Regions from separate parts of the Homo sapiens genome. Here all the other regions are reported to be linked to region 1. Evidence: microRNA targets listed by miRTarBase, many of them from high-throughput screens and not tested one by one. Region 1 holds a microRNA gene; each other region holds the end of a gene's coding sequence.

Region 1 (3,246 bases):
AGAAAAGGAATTTCATTTCTACATCTGAGAAAGTGGAAACTAGGAGTTTCTTCCTTACCTGGTAAATGGGCCAGAAACAGGGAATAGGAAGATTAAGAGCTATGGGATTTGTTTTATTTCTCATCTCAGGGTACCAAATTAACTCATCATCCCAAGGATTCATATTTTAGAATTACTTAAGGATTCATATTTTAGAATTACTGTATCAAATGATATCCAACTCTAAGAGAACTTCTAGTATGAAGATCAATGTTGAAAGTAAAATATTTAGATTATTAATAACAAATTATTTAAGGGAGAATTAGTTTGTTTAGAGCTTTTTTTCTTAACTATATTTGGAATTAAAATGTCTTAATTAGATATTTAATAAAATTAACATTTAGAATTAAAGTATTTTTCTTTAAAAGTATATTTGCATTTTGCTAGCTTAAGTTTATTGAAACTGAGCTCTTGTATGTCATTTCATGTTTTTCCCTTGATGTGAAGTCTTACCTATTTGATGAAGATGTCTTTTGAAAGGTGTACTGCAAGGAACAAAATGTTTGTAAATTCTCCTTTTACCAAGGTAAAGATCAAATTTTATAAATTTACTTGTTTGTTTATACAAGGAAAAATAACTTCATATATTGAATATATTCAAAAGTTTAAGCATTTAGTTGTATTGCCCTGTTAAGTTGGCATAGCAAATAAATGCTTTTCTTTTCCTCATTTTATTCTTTGTGTTTCCTAACCTATAGCACTGTGCTGGGCACAGAATGGACTTCAGTTAAGTTTTTGATGTAGAAATGTTTTATTATTCTACTTAAAATCTCCTTAAAAATAATTATGCATATTACATCAATGTTATAATGTTTAAACATAGATTTTTTTACATGCATTCTTTTTTTCCTGAAAGAAAATATTTTTTATATTCTTTAGGCGCGAATGTGTGTTTAAAAAAAATAAAACCTTGGAGTAAAGTAGCAGCACATAATGGTTTGTGGATTTTGAAAAGGTGCAGGCCATATTGTGCTGCCTCAAAAATACAAGGATCTGATCTTCTGAAGAAAATATATTTCTTTTTATTCATAGCTCTTATGATAGCAATGTCAGCAGTGCCTTAGCAGCACGTAAATATTGGCGTTAAGATTCTAAAATTATCTCCAGTATTAACTGTGCTGCTGAAGTAAGGTTGACCATACTCTACAGTTGTGTTTTAATGTATATTAATGTTACTAATGTGTTTTCAGTTTTATTGATAGTCTTTTCAGTATTATTGATAATCTTGTTATTTTTAGTATGATTCTGTAAAAATGAATTAATACTAATTTTTCAGATGTATCATCTCTTAAAATACTGTAATTGCAATTTAATAATTGTATTGAATGCCATCAAGTTTTTTTAAAAAGCTTATGCAGCATTAGAGGAATTTATTTTAATGCACATTTATATTCAACATAGACATTAATTCAGATTTTTACTTGGGATAAAACAAATTCTAGTTTTCCCTTTGTTTTGAAATTACTTTTAAAATATGTCTTTACAGATAAATATAAAATATATTAAGCATTTTGAACAGAGCTTAGAAGACAATATTTAGTACTGTTTCTGAATATTTCTTTATATCTGAAGGGGAAAAGCCATCAAAATATGTGAATTAAATACCTAAAATTCTGGTTGTCAAAACGTCACACTTAACCATAACTTTAAAGGTAGAAAAACCCTTACAAGTGACCAACCCACTCATTGGATAGCTAAGGAAACACAAAACTCAAATAATTTGCTACACATCACAGATTGGGGTCTTAGTCTTATGTCTTCTAACTTTATAATGGTATACTATTTTTTTCATGTTTTTATTAAAATGTTTTCTTAAATCCTTAGCCAAAGATTTTTGTTTGATAAGTCAAAAATAAGGTCTTGTTTACTTTGTTTACTTTTTTGTATTCAAGATTTAACTCAGAGTAAGACCAAATTATCATTGTAGTTTTATTGATATAAAATGTCAACATAATTTAATTTTTTTTTTTACTTTTTTGTATTTTTAAAATTTTTTATTAAAAATAAAAGTAGACAGCCAGGTGCGGTGGCTCACGCACTTTGGGAAGCCGAGGCAGGCGGATCACCAGGTCAGGAGATCAAGACCATCCTGGCTAACACGGTGAAACCCCATCTCTATTAAAAATACAAAAAAAATAGCCAGGCGTGGTGGCGGGCGCCTGTAGTCCCAGCTACTCGGGAGGCTGAGGCAGGAGAATGGCATGAACCTGGGAGGCGGAGCTTCCAGTGAGCTGAGATCGCACCACTGCACTCCAGCCTGGGTGACAGAGGGAGACTCTGTCTCAACAAAAAAAAAAAAAGAAAAGAAAAGTAGAGCTGGGCACAGTGGCTCAAGCCTGTAATCCCAGCACTTTGGGAGGCCGAGGAGGGTGGATGACGTGAGGTCAGGAGTTCGAGACCAACCTGACCGACATGGTGAAACCCCATCTCTACTAAAAATACAAAAAATTAGCCGGGCGTGGTGGCACATGCCTGTAGTCCCAGCTACTCGGGAGACTAAAGCAGGAGAATTGTTTGAACCGGGGAGGCGGAGGTTGTAATGAGCCCAGATCGCGCCATTGCAATCCAGCCTGGACAACAAGAGTGAAACTCCATCTCAAAAAAATAAATTAAAATGTAAAAATTAAAACTAAATAAATAAATAAAAATAGAGACAGGGTCTCACTATGCTGCCCAGGCTGGTTTCAAACTCCTGGGCTCAAGCAGTCTTGCCTTAGCCTTCCACTGTGCTGGGATTATAGGCATGAGCCACCACCCCTGGCCTAATTTAATTAAAATCTGAACAAAAGGCCGGGCACGGTGGTGGCTTATGCCTGTAATCTCAGGCCAAGGCAGGTGGATCATGTGAGGTCAGGAGTTCGAGACCAGCCTGGGCAATGTGGTGAAACCCTGTCTCTACTAAAAATAAAAAATTAGCCAGGTGTGGTGGCGGGCGTCTGTAATCCCAGCTACTTGGGAGGCTGGGGCAGGAGAATCACTTGAACCCGGGAGAATCACTTGAATTCCAGTCTGGGCAACAGAGCGAGACTCCATCTTAACGGCAACAACAACAAAAATCTGAACAGAAATGCTCTATTTACGTTCTTTTCCTTATCTGTAGTGTTTTAAAGTCATTAAACTTAAAAATGATGTTCAGGAGAAGATGAGTGTATTTGCATAGTCTGTCATAACTCTGGTATTATTTTGTACAAGGAGTGTGTTAGGGTT
Region 2 (3,246 bases), not on the chromosome of region 1:
TATCAATTTACTTCACTGACATTTTGAAGGATTTTTTTAGTTTGTTCACTGAGTTTGCCTTCTGTAATATACAAAATAGTTGGGCTAGACTGTAAATATGTAAGTCTAACCTGAAGTTTGTTTGAAAGTAACTGCTTTGCTCCTTCTCCCATATCCCCTAGTCAATGATACACTTGATGACATCTTTGACGGTTCTGATGACGAAGAAGAAAGCCAGGATATTGTGAATCAAGTTCTTGATGAAATTGGAATTGAAATTTCTGGAAAGGTATGAACATCATCTTTTCTTAGTTGGAAATAGTTTCTGCCTACCACGTTTGTCACTTAATTGTTTTGTTTTTACTAGGAGGTGCATGGTTTTTATTTCTGTTTCAAAAGTAAATTAAACAGACCTCTTTACAGCACATCCTGTATGTCCTAGTCCAAATGTTTCCTAATGCACGTTTGTCTTTTTCATTGTTTAATATAGATGGCCAAAGCTCCATCAGCTGCTCGAAGCTTACCATCTGCCTCTACTTCAAAGGCTACAATCTCAGATGAAGAGATTGAACGGCAACTCAAGGCTTTAGGAGTAGATTAGTCAAAAGAAGTCATACTATTTTGCTTACTTATAATTATGTAGTATAAACCAAGCACAGTGCAGATTTCTTTTACAAAACACATGTATTTTGCAAAAAAAAAAAAAATGAAGACCATGAGTGAACAGTTGTTTCCTAACCCATGGCTATTTAGAATCTTTTGCCAAAGAATGACAATGATGCAAAAATGGGAACAGTTTGGATTTTAATTAGAACTGTTTAGGAGTGATGATGTGTAAAAAGTTGACTTCTCTTTTGCATGGCACAGAGAAATTATATTCCTTACTTCATGTCAGTTTATGTTCTAAATCTTTTTCACTGAATATAAAAATCTTGTTAAATGCCATTAGGCACCAACTTAAAGAGGGTTGTAAAAATATTAAAAGTATATCGTTAATTCTGTATCTGTTGCTTGTCTTTTGTAAGTGATTATGTGTTATGACCATAGGTGGTTACAGCTGCCAAATTATTTTTAAATGGTCAAAAAGAAGAGTGCTATTTAAACATCTGTCTTAAACAAAAACTGTCATAACTTTTCTTTTTTCTTTTTCCATTAGGAGAACATTCTAGTTGGTAAATTTCAAAATGTGCTTGACACCTGCCTTAAATAGCACAGACCTATTGTGCACATCTTTAAATTATTTCAGCTGGCAGAAAAGAATTACATTTAAAACTGAAATCAAGGCCTCAATACAAAGATTATCCTGGCTCTTTTCTATCTCTGTGGGCCTAATTGAAATATGTACTCTTATTTTAGACACGCCTCTGTTAAAACAGACCAGGTTTTCCTGGTCTCAGACCTATGATGACTTGTCCCTTTGATGTCACTACTGTGAATTGAATATAATTAGTAAAAATAGACGATGAATAAATAACACTTTATAGTAAGAAAACAATATATTTTGGCCATCTAAAAATGAGAATTATAATTATATGAATTATAATTTAAACTGTTTAATTTTGTTTAATGTGTATATTGAATCTTCCAAATTGAAGCCATTATTCTCAATTAAGTACTACAACTATGACAATGCTTGACCTACATTTCTAAAATAAAAATTCACATTTTTTGATAAATAAACTACAGTTTTACCAGAAATTACTATCTAAATGTGTATTAGCAGTATTTTTTAAGGTGAAATTGCCTTGGTATCTAATGAATGTGTAGACAGGGAGATAAAATGAAGGATTGCCAGACTAGTTAGAATAGAATTTAGGATTAGGTTAGTTTTGAAAAATGATGTTGTAATATATGGGTTCTAACACATCCTACCATAAAAACTGGAGGAGATATGTGTAACCTGGTTAATTTGGGATGGTGGACATTTTGGGCTAATACTGACAAAATACATCTTAGGACTAGTATACATGTGACACGGATTGCTAGGAGGAATGAAAAACTAAACTGTATAGTTTATATTCCGTAAACCATTTTATAATGTTCAAAGATTAGGTTTTGTTATTGATAGTATTAAATACACAGTTTCTCTTAACAGTGATGGGTGAAAACATTTTACCGGATTATGGAATGTTTACCAGAACATGTTTTGATTCTTGAATGTACATAATAATGCCATCTAACTTATTTACGTTCTTGTTTACATGTGGGAGCTTTTGTTTTCAAAAATTATTTTGTTAAAAAATCTCAATAAAGATTTATTATTGTTGTTCTTTTCTTACCTTTTTTGCTCTTTTTGGTTCCTGCTAAAATTAAAAATTTTATGCATATTTGGTAATTTTTCAAAAGAATGATCTTTATTATTTTCCTAGAAGTACAATTAGATAAACTCTGCTACTTAACATTAAAAAAAAAACTATCTTCTTAAGAAATAATTTGTACTAGACTAATGTTTGTGAATGTAATAAGCCTAAGAATTGGTGGTTTCACATTAATTTGTTCCCAGTATTCTCAGGGATTAAACATTTTTAAGTTTTATTTTTGAATGTATAAGTCCCAGTGACTTATTTCATTTCAGTCAAACATGGATACCACAAAAGAATTTGGACATAAAAGACAGAGAGATCATTCTGATTTGGCTACATTTATAAAGTGTTCTGGTGGTAGTTTTCACAATCACTGTCACTGTGAATTTGTAATGTTATTCTATCCTTTGCTAAAAAGGAAAGTTACTTTTGAGCCCTTAAAGAATAAGAAATAAGGGTTCTTATAGATTGAGCTTAATGAAAACACTGGGTTTTTTTTAACCTGTTTTTTCTAACTTCTTTAGGCACAAAAATAAATATTTAACAATTGTAATCAAATAAGAGGTTGCTGTAATCAAACAAGAGGTTGCCATAGAAAGAATAGAAGAGTATCTCTATGACTGAAAAGGATGCAGCCCAAAGCCACATTTTGTTACCAAATGAAAAAGTTATTTATGGGGGAAATTTCGGAGTACCAGAGAAGTAGAACGTCATACGAAAATGTCAATACTCATGATAACACCTGTTCTTAGAAAACATAAAATGACCATCTGTCAGATGATTATGTTGCACACACTGTACTGTGTGCTCTGAGGGGAGTATCTGGTTATTGCAAGAGCTAATGGGAAGGGGCTCAAGATTGTGACCCTATGGACCAGAGAGAGGAAGCTGTCAGCCTATGGGCTTTATGTTGTTTGACTTGCACAGTGATATATCTTTTACTTTTTGCATTTGAATGCCTTTA
Region 3 (3,246 bases), not on the chromosome of region 1:
GTGGAGCATGGTTGTTTTCTTATGCCTCATTCTTGTAACAGTAGCCACCACATTGAACATCAAATATCATTTCATTTTTTCCCCTTTTTCTCCTACCTGACCCTAAGTAATACCCAGTCTTCCCAATACCCCATTCTCTGTAAAATCTTACAAGGATTGAGTTGAATATTATCAACTACTATATTCCTTCACTCAGAAAAAAAAATTTGTAGTCATATGTTTCATCATAAGAATAATATATACTAAATTGCCTGTGTATTTATTTTTATTTGCAGATTCCCACTGGATTCTTCTCTCTGCTGACAGTGAGGGCTTTATCCCGTTAACCTTCACAGCCACACAGGAAATAATCATAAGAGATGGCAGCCTGTCCAGGTCAGATGTCTTCAGAGACTCTTTTTCTCACAGTCCAGGTGCTGTTTCTTCTCTTAAAGTCTTTACAGGCCTTGCTGCCCCCAGTTTAGATACCACTGGCTGTTGTAACCATGTAGATGGCATGGCTTGATATCTGCAGTGTCCTTGCTGTGTAGCTCTTCAGATGAGACCATTACAAACAAGGCCTGCTTGACACTGGACACTCGCCAATGAGACTCCCACTGCACTCAGGCGAAGCGCTTGCCATGGTCGGCTCTCCTGGTTTCCCCCTGTTTCCCCTGAGCTGAGGCTCGCTGCTGTGTAGCAGAGCTCAGTCTTTATTAGATGGCTCCGAAAGTGGTGTTTATGTATTCATGACTGTGTGGTTTTGACTAAGGGCAGAATTCTCAGAACAAAACAATATTATGGTGCCATATGGATGGTGTTTTATGGTTTCTCTGAGGCTTTGTGTCCCTTGTCCAAAGCTGCATTGAAGCTGTCTTAGGAGCACTTAAAAGATACCTTGGCATTGTTATAGGTCTTTTTCTTGGCTTCAAGAGGAGGTTGAGGAGTCTGCTGGGGGGCATGTGCTCTAGCATATTAACCTCAAACCAGCAAGAATTAGCAGAGCTCCAAGGAGGACCAGAGACCCACTGGCTTCTGCTCTCAGGAACAGGAAGTGGCTCTGATGTTGCCTGGACCTCCCAGAATTTAAACCAAACCCTCTTGCTTCCTTAACAAATTCTGGCTGACGAAGGTCCAGGTACTCTTAAAAACTGGCCCTGGGAAAATTTTGAATGAAATTTCAAGGGAATTTGTCCCCTCTGGGTTCCACTTGAGGTTGTGCCGATGCTGCTACCACACTGTCGAGCCCAGGTAAGTCCTACTGCAGGATTTTGTGCTGTGGCCACTCATGAGTGTCCCTGAAATAACTTTTTTTTTTTTTAAATCCAGTTTTGGGATCACGCAACTTTCCTATTTTTCTCCCAGTAGTCAGCTCCCTTAGTTAACTTGTCACTTTAATTTGATATTTTTATTTTCTCTCCTTTTAAGTCTTAGAGACCAGCAGAGAATCTGTGAGAGAAAGTATTTCAGGAAGTTAGAAATTCAACCGAATCTGAGGTAGTCCTAAAAAGTGCCATTTTGTTTCACTTATGGGCTAAAGTACCAGCTTAGTCAGGTAAGAGCCCTGACCCACTTCAGATGGTAACACCACTTCTCACTGCCTTCAGATGGAATCACAGATTTCAGTCACGGCGCATAACAAATTGATCAGTGAGTGGCTAGGCATCTGCAGATAAATTGTTTCAGCCATAGAAGCTCCATTAGCACATATGCTTCCTTTTCCCCCCTTCCTTTAAAATCATCTGGAAAGAAACTATTTTGTGCCCTTGGGGACTCCTGTCTGTCTGTTACAGTTTACCAAGATGGAGCTGGGTTAGGAAAGAAGTGAGGGCCCATTTTGTGGTTCAAGTGCACTAGACAGCTGCTGGGGTAGGAAGCACAGGCAATGTCTGTAATCAGCTGTGGGAGAGCAGTGACTGAGAACAGTCTGAGGCCTGGCTCCACTTGGAAGTATCTGGGGTGCGATGAAATCACAATTATCTTGAAGCCTAAAGAGGGAACTACAAGACTGTTAACTAAGATCAATGTGGGCACCTAAAAGGGTATGTTAAAATCACCATTTCTCAGGTCAAAATACTGTGAATAAGTCTTCAATAAAATCACTAATGGTTATTGTGGCTGTTTTGGATGTTTTGGTAGTATTTTCTTTGCGATTATTGCTGCTATAGAGGAACCGGCAATAATCTTGCAGTTATATATGCATATGTTGTCTGTATTCCTTCTTCTGGTGGACAGTCCAGAATATAAATGGTTCTTTACAACAAATCTGATTCCATGACAACTCTCATACAAGAGATGTTTCCTTGACCTCTGCTATTATTACAGTCACTGGAACAATAGAAAATAATCTCATATTTGCTGGCTTTGGAGGCAGGGAGAAAAGAGCTAAATTCTTCAAAGGATTGTTTAATGTTCTACAGTCATGCACCACCTCGCCTGGCTAATGCTTGTATTTTTAGTAGAGACGGGGTTTCACCATGTTGGCCAGGATAGTCTCGAACTCCTGCCGGCCTCCTCTTTCTTTATACCTTGTGTGTTGGACAAACATTTTAATTTTAAGGAAGCCACACATTTACCTATCTTCCTTTTTATGGAAGTTTTGTCTTCATATTTATGTCTTTAATCAGTATTCTGCTGGATAATTTTATTTGTTTGGGGGGTTTTTGTTGTTGTTGTTGTTGTTTTTTGAGACGGAGTCTTACTCTGTCGCCCAGGCTGGAGTGCATTGGCACAATCTTGGCTCACTGCAACCTCCAACTCCCGGGTTCAAACCATTCTCCTGTCTCAGCCTCCTGGGTAGCTCGGATTACAGGTGCCCGCCACCACACCCATCTAATTTTTGTATTTTTAGTAGAGATGGGGTTTCACCATATTGGCCAGGCTGGTCTCAAACTCCTGATCTCAAGTGATCTGCCTACCTCAGCCTCCCAAGTGCTGGGATTACAGGCATGAGCCACTGAGCCCAGCCTCTGCTGGATAATTGAGGGGTCCCTCTGCAGAGTTCCTGACTTCATGCTCTGCATTGCTCTGTGTGGTAAATTTCATTTGCCAGGTTTTTTGTGTTCTTTTTTTGAGACAGAGTCTCTCTCTGTCGCCCAGGCTGGAGTGCAGTGGTGTGATCTTGGCTCACTGCAACCTCTGCCGCCTGGGTTCAGGCGATTCTCCTGCCTCAGCCTCCTGAGTAGCTGGGATTACAGGCGCCTGCCACTGTGCCTGGCTAATTTTTGTAGTTTTAGTAGAGATGGGGTTTCACCATCTTGGCCATGC
Region 4 (3,000 bases), not on the chromosome of region 1:
GTTTTTGTCCTGCGACGCAACAAGAAACCCACAGTGAAGCACGAAGGCCTGGGGAATCCTGACTGTGGCTCCATGCAGCTGCAGCTAAGGAAGCATGACCACAAAACCAATAAAAAAGATGGACTGAGCACAGAAGCTTTCATTCCACAAACTATAGAACAGATGAGCAAGAGCCACACTTGTGGCTTGAAAGAGTCAGAAACTGGGTTCATGTTTTCAGATCCTCCAGGACAGAAAGTTGTTATGAGAAATGTGGCCGACAAGGAGAAAGATTTATTACATGTAGATACCAGGAAGAGACTGAGCACAATTGATGAGCTGGATGAATTATTCCCTAGCAGGGATTCCAATGTGTTTATTCAGAATTTTCTTGAAAGCAAAAAGGAGTATAATAGCATAGGTGTCAGTGGCTTTGAGATCCGCTATCCAGAAAAACAACCAGACAAAAAAAGTAAGAAGTCACTGATAGGTGGCAACCACAGTAAAATTGTTGTGGAACAAAGGAAGAGTGAGTATTTTGAACTGAAGGCGAAACTGCAGAGTTCCCCTGACTACCTACAGGTCCTTGAGGAGCAAACAGCTTTGAACAAGATCTAGGTCATGTAATCTTACTTCATACAGAGGACATTTATTTAATGATGAAAGTGCCTTTTGTTGACTTCTAACTTCCAAATACTATATTATCAATAGGCATGGAGGCAGGTGTTTCCAAGGGTGTCTCATTAACTGTAGCTGCAAAGATGTGTCAAGTAGAAGAGAATTTGTTTAATAGATTTTACTACATAAAACCTATACTGTGGAGTCCTGTGGGGATACTGCAAACTCTATTGCCAAAGGGATGCTTTATACACATAATACTGAATTTAACCTCAAGAGGCAAATCTGTTTTGTACCCCAATGCAAAACCTTCGTCTCTTTGTGCTTTGTAAAGCAAACTCAAGAAAACTGGTACACCTGTACCAGCTGGGTCCTTTATCTTGCACGTAGATTAAGTTGGTGGAACTGGAATAATCCTTTTGATTTGTGGCATTGTAACAACTCCGTGTAAAGATTATCTGAAAAGTAAAAAAAAAAAAAAAAAAAAAAAAAAAAAAAAAAAAGCATGCAAAGAGAGAACACTCGATAGTATTTGTAAATTGGTAACCTTTATGGCCTGCATCTTGAAACCGCTGGATTTATAATGTTAATTTGTGCAAATACTTGTTTAAAATATAACATACATTACATAACTATAAAATAAATTTGAACACTTTAAGCATTACCTGTCTATACATAAAAATCTAAAAGAAAAAATCAACGTGAGTTAGATAGCATTTGTGATGATCTGAAGAAATATGTGACGTTTATCAGAATTAAACATGGCTCAAATTAAACTAACACTAGAGTTTGTTCTCAGTTACGTGAAACACCCACAATCCTTCAAGGTTGTCCAAAATAAGCAGAGTGCTTACTGTGTGAGCGCACCCAAAGCTATTTTTGTAACATAATTCATATTTATGAAGTACTTTGTATACTAAATAGGAAAATATGTACTCCTTAATATGTATTTAATATGCCTGACTTGTTTTCCTGATCACAGTGAATTTATCAGTAAGTATAAATGTAGACAGAAAGAAATATACTAAACTGAAACAAGCTGGTGTGAACAGAAATATTCTGGACTTTGTGATCAGGTGTAACTTAAAAACAAAAAAAATTTAAAACAAACAGAAAAGAAAAAAATACAAAAGAACAGTCAATTCTGTGCTATTCTTGTGAATTTAGCGTATTATCTTCAGATTTGTTACCAATTGTGCATTCAAAAATAAGTTCCTTAGTTTTCTAGTATTGTGTCTGGGGCAGTTGTTATTTGCCATCGGTTGTCTTGCTTTTCAGGATTCTATGAGCTTAATTCAAATAGTTTTCGCTACAAGTATTTAAAAAATAATGAATAAGGTTAATAGTTATATCTTGTATGCATCAGTATCCTGTTCTTTCATCATTCAGACTACTATCAGATAATCTAGTAGAACTGTAAACATCATGGTAATCTTGGCTATGAAAGCCACACTGTAAAAATGCTTGCATTGGTTTCAGATGAGTTCACAGTCTGCAACTACAAATGATATGCCCCTGTGTTTGCTTTTGCTAAGATCTAAGTCAAAATTTGTTAAAGGAATAAAGTAACTGATAATGGGTGATGTCGGAACTTTTGTAGGAGCTCCCGATTAACAAAGTGATATTCAGAAACACATTGTCTTCTTGGCCTGCCTGCATATATATATATAGATATATAGATATATATAGATATACATATATATATATGTGTGTGTGTATATATATATGCGTGTGTATATATATGTGTGTGTATATATATACATATATGTATGTGTGTGTGTATACATATATATATAGTGTGTGTGTGTGCATGTGTGAGAGTGTGTGTCCTATCTCTTATAATTACCTTATGAATCAGTAAGATAACCAAGAAGGTAAACATAGCCATTCCTCATGATTGCAAGTGGCATATTTTTTCTGTTGCAGCTTCCAAAATGATACTATGTTTATAGTTGCAGTAGCTGTTCCTTTATTAATCACTAATTTCAGGGCTTTATGTGTTTGTTGCAAGACAAAAAAAAGAAGCTTGGCTTTCTTGGGTGTGTGTGTATGTGTGTGTGTGTCTGAGTGTGTGTATATATATATATGTGGGTATATATTCATACATATAGATAATTTGGAAATCTTTTTTAAATAGCAAAAACCGTCTCCATGTGTATGTGCTGGTGCTCTTAAAACTTTAGTGTGTAATTTTAATTTTTATGACATCTGTGAAAACTTTATATGAATATAAAATAATTCAAACAAATAATTGCTTTCTGATCTTGAAAGAAAAGACAAGATGTGTGCCCAACAGCTTTTTTCATCTACAATTTCATAAGGACTTTTGATATGCCATTACCATGCATGCACACATCCATGGATTAAAGGGCTCCTAATGTATACTGACAGGATAAAGATGCA

Evidence for each region. Region 1 holds the annotated microRNA hsa-miR-16-1-3p (CCAGUAUUAACUGUGCUGCUGA, at 1,143-1,164, shown strand). A microRNA usually pairs through its seed, bases 2 to 8, with sites in the 3' UTR of a target mRNA and lowers its output. Matches are read on the target gene's strand: a 7mer-m8 pairs with bases 2 to 8, a 7mer-A1 pairs with bases 2 to 7 and ends in A, and an 8mer does both.
Region 2: miRTarBase lists CHMP2B as a target of hsa-miR-16-1-3p. Seed matches in the 3' UTR shown: 8mer at 1,913-1,920.
Region 3: miRTarBase lists WDCP as a target of hsa-miR-16-1-3p. Seed matches in the 3' UTR shown: 7mer-m8 at 2,052-2,058.
Region 4: the mRNA of SLITRK4 is a reported target of hsa-miR-16-1-3p. Seed matches in the 3' UTR shown: 8mer at 854-861 and 7mer-A1 at 2,979-2,985.

What each region holds. Positions count from the first base shown.
Region 1 is chr13:50,046,903-50,050,148 of GRCh38, reverse strand. It overlaps MIR16-1 (microRNA 16-1), which reads left to right and starts at 1,088; the gene lies at 1,088-1,176. It overlaps DLEU2 (deleted in lymphocytic leukemia 2), which reads left to right. Exons shown (of 14, transcript NR_152566.1): 6 at 487-565. It overlaps MIR15A (microRNA 15a), which reads left to right and starts at 948; the gene lies at 948-1,030.
Region 2 is chr3:87,253,243-87,256,488 of GRCh38, forward strand. CHMP2B (charged multivesicular body protein 2B) reads left to right here. Exons shown (of 6, transcript NM_014043.4): 5 at 162-268; 6 at 470-2,314. The coding sequence ends at 580. Among named protein-coding and RNA genes, the nearest start is that of POU1F1, 22 kb to the right of the region's middle.
Region 3 is chr2:24,028,192-24,031,437 of GRCh38, reverse strand. It overlaps WDCP (WD repeat and coiled coil containing), which reads left to right. Exons shown (of 4, transcript NM_025203.3): 4 at 276-2,091. The coding sequence ends at 505. Among named protein-coding and RNA genes, the nearest start is that of WDCP, 18 kb to the left of the region's middle.
Region 4 is chrX:143,626,192-143,629,191 of GRCh38, reverse strand. It overlaps SLITRK4 (SLIT and NTRK like family member 4), which reads left to right. Exons shown (of 2, transcript NM_001184749.3): 2 at 1-3,000. The coding sequence ends at 597. Among named protein-coding and RNA genes, the nearest start is that of SLITRK4, 8.4 kb to the left of the region's middle.